2 linked regions of the Homo sapiens genome follow. The protein of the gene in region 1 interacts with the protein of each later gene in a biochemical or structural test. Each region holds a gene or a part of one and is shown in the gene's direction. Other genes may lie near its edges.

Region 1 (3,826 bases):
AGTGTCTCCAGGGGAAGCGCTTGTTTGAATTGCTGGCTACACTAGCTAACTAGCTCCTTTTTTTCTGTGAAATAACCACTTTTACTAAAAACAACGATCGACAGACACACATGATTATTCCATGTGTTTTAACAGATATTTTCCCATAAATAATCAACATGAGTCTGTCACTTCATTAAAAACAAATGACAGTATTATTGCCAGTGATAAAATTCAAAGTTTCTTTTTTTTTTTGAGATGGAGTCTTGCTTGTTGCCCAGGCTGGAGTGCAGTGGTGTGATCTCAGCTCACTGCAGTCTCTGCTTCCTGGGCTCAAGTGATTCTCCTTCAGCCTCCAGAGTAGCTGGGATTATAGGTGTGAGCCATAATGCCTGGCTAATGTTGATATTTTTAGTAGAGACGGGGTTTCACCATGTTGGCCAGGCTGGTCTCGAACTCCTGGCCTCAAGTGTTCCACCCACCTCAGCTTCCCAGAGTGCTGGGATTATAGGCATGACCAATGGGTTTGAATGTTATAGAGTAAAAAAATTTTGTGTTATGGTTTTAGATTTTACAGGGCAATTTATCATTAAGAAACTATTATTCATTGAGTTTTGATATAGTATCAAAGAAAAATATCCATAGTTATATGAAAAGGTTATTAAATAAAATATATTGTTCCTTTTTCCAACTATGTATCTGGAGGAGGCTGAATTTTCTTCTTACAGGTAGTCCCCTATGCACAGTTTCAATTACCACAGTCGATAGTCATCTGAAGACAGCTAAGTGCAGTACAGTAAGATATTTTGCGAGAGAGAGAGTCCACATTCTCATAGCTTTTATTACAATATTTTGCTATAATTGTTTAATTTTATTATTAGTTATAGTTATTAATCTCTTACTGTACCTAACTTAAAAATTAAACTTTATCATAGGTATGTGTGTATAGGAAAAAAGCAAAGTATACTTGATATAGGGTTCTGTACTATATGTGGTTTCAGGAATCCACAGGGGATCCTGGGATGTATCCCTTGCAGATAAGAGAGGGCTACTGTACTGTAACAGATTCAGTGCAGAAGTAGATATGAGAGTCTAGCTGTCTTCCTTTAGTCAGGCAGAAGAGATTTACAGTAATGTCATGTGGTACCACTTTCACTGATTTTTATTATCATTCATGAAAATGTTATTTATGTTAACATGTAATGAGTATATTGTCATTTTAAAATAAATATAAAATTAGGCTGGGCATAGTGGCTCATACCTGTAATCCCAGCACTTTGGGAAGCTGAGGTAGGAGGATTGCTTGAGGCCAGGAGTTCAAGACCAGCCCGGGCAACATAGACCTCATCTCTACAAAAAGTAGACAAAATTAGCCAGGCGTGGTGGTGCGTGCCTATAGTACCAACTGCTCAGGAGGCTGAGGTGGGAGGATCTCTTGAACCCAGGAGGTTGAGGCTGCAGTGAGCCGAGATCATACCACTGCACTCTAGCCTGGCCAACACAGCGAGACTCTGATTCTGTGTCTTCAATAAATAAATAAATAACAAATTTTCTCAGTTTTTTTTTTTTTTTTTTTTTTTTTTGACAGAGTTTTCGCTCTTGTTGCCCAGGCTGGAGTGCAGTGGCGCAATCTTGGCTCACTGCAACCTCTGCCTCCCAGTCTCAAGCAATTCTTCTGCCTCAGCCTCCTGAGTAGCTGGGATTACAGGCACACGCCACCATGCCTGGCTATTTTTTTTTTTTTTTTTTTGTATTTTTAGTAGAGATGGGGTTTCACCACGTTGGCCAGGCTGGTCTCCAACTCCTGACCTCAGGTGATCCGCCTCGGCCTCCCAAAGTGCTGGGATTACAGAAGTGAGCCATCATGCCCCGCCTCTCGGTTTTATTTTCTAGTAGGGTACATTTCAAGAGATGCAACCCACATAAACAATGCTTCTTCCTGTCTTCCAATAATTTTTAAGAGAATAAAGGGGTTCTGAGACCAGAATGTTTGAGAACCACTGATGTAAGCAGTAGAATGACAGGTAGGACAGGTTGGCATAGGGGAAGAATGTGAGCTTTGCAAATAAACAGCCAGGTTCAGATTCTGGATCTGCTGTTGCTAGTAGCAAATTGTTTAACTTTGTTGGGCAAATTCCAGTCTCTCTGATAACCAGTTTCCTCATTTTATAAAATGGGGATAATAAAGCTGTTTTGTTTATTGAAGGTTAAGTAGTTGTTTGATCTTTTTAATTTTTTCATTATGTGTTATGATGACTGACAGACATGACTACCTCAAGTCATTTAAGAAAAGGTTGAAATTATTTGAAGAAGTTATCCTTTACCCATATGGATAAAGTTTATGTCTAAAGCTTTTTCCCTTGAAACTTTATATACATTTTCAAGTATATGTATAAACTTAAAATTTTACAATTAGAAAAGCAGTAAAACTAATTCAGAACATTTACTTAGGCACGAGACAGATGGTAATCCTATAAAAAGATGGCATATATTTTTGGATGTGCAAACAGAAAAACAGATACTCTTAAAAATTTTAGAGTAATCTTTGCCTAGAATATGAAGGGAAGAGATAAAAGACCATATGGCCTAATAGAACTTTTATAGTTTGTAATGTCTAGGATTGAATTTTGTTTCTTTAATATTAGTATTGATTAATAGCTTACTAATATGGATTGGTAGTTGAAAAAGGAATAATTTTCAAGCAGGTAATTGCCAAGTACTTTTACCGTGGTTGCTAGTCTCTCGTGTTTTGGGGTATGGGTGTGATAGTGGGAAGCACAACTATTTGAATCTCACATTTAGTAGGGTTAATCAGTTACTGATTCTGGCAGTTATAATAGTTCATTATGCTTGGGTAGAAGACATGCTACTAAGACACTGAGTTCACCTAATATACAACTTCATTTATTATTTAAAAGTAACTGGTGCTTCAAATATTTTAAGTTTTTTATTTTTTACAACTTATTCAGAAACATAGTACATGACAGTAGACTTTTAAAAATTGCTTCTTCCTTTTGGGGACATGATAGTACTGATCCCCTGATAGGTTGTCTAATCTGAGTGGTTTTTAGTAAGAATGATTCCATCTGCACACCACCCGAATCCTATCTGTAACTAAAAGGGGACAATTGTCAGGTTCTCTCTCTCCTGTCAGTTCCCACCTTGTGTACCATTATATTACTGAAGGGTTGATACTACAGTTTATCTGTTCATACATCTGTCTCTCCTACTGGATTAGGTGACCATCAGTTATTCATCAATCTGTGTATTGCCACACAGGGCTGAGCCAAGCTGACTCAGCAGAGGCCGAGTAGGGGCTTAGTAAAGGCAGAGTGAATTCATGAATGGGATCAAAGCTAGAGCCATAGTCTTGTGCCAAGAAACTGAGTGGCGCTAAACTGCTGATTTGGGAGGTCAGAATCTTGTTCTGGGCTTTATTAGCATTTCGCTCAAGTCAAGCGAATCACCTTGTCAAGTCATATGCAGAGAAGGCAGAACATGACGTTGGAGGAAAGAAAACATTCTACACAGTTTAAACACAGGGCCTTTGTAAAGTAGTGTTAGGATCACTTAACGTGGTTTATGGAACCAAGATTTTTTGCTGTGAAATGACTTTCAGAAAGTCTTTACAGAATTGAAATCCTGTCATTTCAGTGTAGAACAATGTACAAAAAAAGTTTAGAAAATATATTTCTGGATATAGAAGTAAAAATTTGCCATGGGAAATTGCAAAAAAAGAAGAGTAAGCAATAATAATTCTGGAAATATGTTTCATAATCTTCCAAATAGATCAAAACTAGACACATGGGTTTTTATGGGTGTACTTCAGAGATGAAGCTTTTCAACC
Region 2 (3,717 bases), on another chromosome or scaffold:
CTGCTGGGGGTTTTCCACACCACTGCTCCCCTTCATTAGTGGGGATAATTGAGAGTTGACTGCAGTCGTTACTGCTGTTGTGATGGGTATTTGAAGCTAAATTCGGGCAAGTAGGAGATGTGTGAATATTTATCTCAGCTGCAGAAACTTAATGCAGTGTGGCATTAATTACCCTGTCTGAGCCTGCTGTCTTCTTCTGTTTTTAGGTGTCATTTTCAGTTGGATAAATTAGTTTCCAAAATTAGAATAGAGCAAATTGTAGGGTGAGATCAAGGCAGCCTGACTTCTTGGGGCATCCAAAAAGAAGAATGAGCTGAGAACATCTATCCAGGAAACATTAATATGCGTGCTTGAAGCCCAGCACAGGCAAAAGGAAATATTTTTCCCCAGTAGTTGTACTTAACTATTTTTGACTCCACCTACTGCACTTGTAGAACACAAACACACAATAAAGTTACATGTTTAGCCTTACAACATGTATTTGAAATAGTTCAAGAGACTGGAAAGGAATAGATTTGGTGTTTAATAAATCATAATCTTACTATAGATTTTGCTACATTTGATTTTGAGAGAATAAAGCCAAATTGGAGTGTATTTAGGACAAAGGGATCAGAACTGTGAGGAAACTAGAAACAGCATTATAATCATTCAGTAATTCAACAGACTCTCATTGAGGACCTACTGTGCTAGGTTCATATTTGTAAAATGGCAGAAGGAGGCCTGGCGCGGTGGCTCACACCTGTAATCTCAGCACTTTGGGAGGCCGAGGTGGGCGGATCACAAGGTCAGGAAATTGAGACCATCCTGGCTGACACAGTGAAACCCTGTCTGTACTAAAAAATATAAAAAATTAGCCGGGCGTGGTGGTGGGCACCTGTAGTCCCAGCTACACGGGAGGCTGAGGCAGGAGAATGGTGTGAACCTGGGAGGCCAAGCTTGCAGTGAGCCGACATCGCGCCACTGCACTCTAGCCTGGGCGACAGAGTGAGACTCCATCTCAAAAAAAAAAAAAAAAAAAAAGGCAGAAGGAACTGGCAAGTGGTAACCTAGAAGTAGGACATGGAAGAATGGGCTTCCGTACTTTTCTGTCATCAGACATTTGGACGAAGGATTGTACTTATTTACATTTCCAAGGGCAGTAGAAAGTCTACGGGCAGAAGGCATGGAGGGACAAGTTGGCACTTTGTTACACTGCATAATAGGGTGCCTCCAAGGAAAGAAGTTCCTTCCCACTGGAAGAATACAAACATAACAAGTTCTAGAGGAACCAGAAATTGGATCTGATGGCAGGAGTCTTGGGGTCTACTCTTGGCATGGATACTAAGTAACCCTGTGACTCTGAAGAAACAAAAGCTGTCTTCACAGGACTTCAGATTCCTCATCTGTACAATGATGGGCCAGTACAACCTTATCTTCTAGGCCATTCCACTTTACAGTAGAAAGCAAGCAATATGATATGCTACACACAAGAGACAGCACAATGACCTTGAGATCACACAACCTTTCAGAACTTCAGTTTTTATCTGCAAAGGGAGGACTCAAAAAATAAAAGCCACCCTCAGGACTATAAGGCAGATAAATAAGACATGAGGTGCTTTGTAAACTCTGAAGCACCAATGGATGGAAAGATTGGGGTCTCTCTCTCTCTGTCTCTCCCTCCTCATGGTCACTGTTGTAAAAGATTAGAAAAAGCACTGGCCCCTGGACCCTGTTTTCAGTTCTCATGTCTCTAGACTTACTAGCTGTGTGACCATGGGCAAATTATCTAACTTCTCTGTGCTTAATTTCACCCTTGCAAAAGAGATAAAGCATCTGCCTTACAAGGCTGTTGTGATGAGATAAAAAGACAATGTACTTGAAAATACCTAGCATGGTGCCAGACACATGGTAGGGGCTCCCAGAATGCCAATTCATTTTGAAGTTTCAAGAAAAAAGCAAATAATAAGAACCTATATGACAAGGCAGGGGACAAGCTAATATATCAAATATGGTAAAATTAGGATTTCATTGTGCCCGTTTAATTCTGGCACAGACCTCCAAGAGTGACAGCATAAAGGTCAATTTTAACAGAAGGTCCTGTGCATGCTTAAAACCACAGTATCCATCAAATCTGCTTGGCCAAGGCACAATGAGCCATCTCAACATCAGCTGAAGTCTGACGGGGTTTAAATAGGGCCGAACGCTGTTTCCTATCTAGGTGTGGATTGCAGGTTTGCTGCATTACATGCTGGTTGAAAATCCCTGTATGTGTTTCAGGACAGCCCCCTGGGTGCAGGCAAATGACTGGCCAAAGTGGAGGGCTCAGACTGAATGGAAACAAGTCCAGAAGTTTGTGATTAAGAGACAAAGACACACTTGCTGTTTCTCTGGCTCAACAGTGCACCCAGGCATCACTATTTGTAGAAGAGCAATTTGAAATAGAATTTCAGGGTTCTCAAGTGGACATTTATGAAACTGTGTTGGAAAAATGTCCACTTGTCTCATGGTAATTGTTAGCAATTTCTGAAGATGTATTGCTAGCAAGCATTGTGCTAGATACTTTATATGTGTAATCTCTAATTCCCTCAAGAACCCCGTAGGATAAACAGTACTATTCCCATTTTGTGGTTGGAGAAACCAAGACTCAGGATAAGTATCTTGTCCACATGACACAGCTTTTCTAACTCTCCCTACTATACCATGCTACTTCCCTAACAGGGCAATCAGTTCCAACTTGAAAACGAAAGACAGAACTGAGTGCATAGCTATTTTGGATAATAAAAATGTTGCCAAAATGTTATGCACCCTGATCAAATACTCCAAAAATAACCTAAGGTCATCCATCATAAACTGTCACTTTTCTGTTTTAATCCTAAACCCCTTTTCCCAAAGCTGTCTCAGAAAATCCATGCAAGTGTAAAGAGCAGGCCTCACTTTGTTCCTTTATCCACAGGAGCCAGAGCCTCTGTACGCGCAGATCAACAGACCTAAGAAATAGCATCGATGCGAGCTCGTGGTGGGTGCTCAAGACTGGCATGGACATCAGCATCACGACAGGCTCTCTTGTATTCTTTCACCTCTTCCCACAAGAAATTCATGATTGCCCAATGGAACTCGCTCAGAAGAGGGAACTAAGCATTTTTGGCAACCAATGGCAGATATCTATGGCAGCACACAAAAAAAGTATAGAAAGATCCACCCAACATTAAATCAGAAATCAAGCAAATGCTTACCCAACAAATATTTGAGCCCTCATAGCTGGGTTTAAGATGACTCAGTGTGCAAAATTATTAATTCCCTTTTTATTTCTCTACCTGTTGACCACTGTTGAGACACCAAATTTGGAGTGACAGGCATCAGAGGATTACAACAGGGTTGGAACTGACTTCTTTAAGCAAAAGCAAAGGGTCTTCTGTGACCACAATATCGTCATCCATATGCCTTTTCACATAGGATGATGTGTTTTTTGTCACTCCATGGGGCCTGGTCTGCCATTTTCCCCCCTTTCCTTTTTTTGTCATGTTTGAAAATTAATAGGTGTACAAATTTTTGTATTGCTTTTGACTTTTTTTAGATATGGGTGAAGAAATCTAACTGGGGAGAAAAAAAGCCTCAGTGAAATGAATTAACTTGAAATTACAAGACAAATAAGTGGTTGATTATTCATTATGATCACGAATGTTGCCAAAACAGTCCTTTAGCTATTCTGCATCCTGGTGAAGAAAGACAGCTTTCAGT

What was found.
Region 2: the proteins of SOCS6 (region 1) and DAB1 form a complex in vitro, tested with the Homo sapiens proteins (one study listed by BioGRID).

The regions. Positions count from the first base shown.
Region 1 is NC_000018.10:70,319,777-70,323,602, forward strand, and holds part of SOCS6 (suppressor of cytokine signaling 6), read left to right. Parts: intron 1-1,826; exon of another isoform or gene 1,827-3,826. UniProt on the Homo sapiens protein: SOCS family proteins form part of a classical negative feedback system that regulates cytokine signal transduction.
Region 2 is NC_000001.11:56,997,344-57,001,060, reverse strand, and holds part of DAB1 (disabled homolog 1), read left to right. Parts: intron 1-2,913; exon of another isoform or gene 2,914-2,932; 3' UTR 2,933-3,717. UniProt on the Homo sapiens protein: Signaling adapter of the reelin-mediated signaling pathway, which regulates the migration and differentiation of postmitotic neurons during brain development.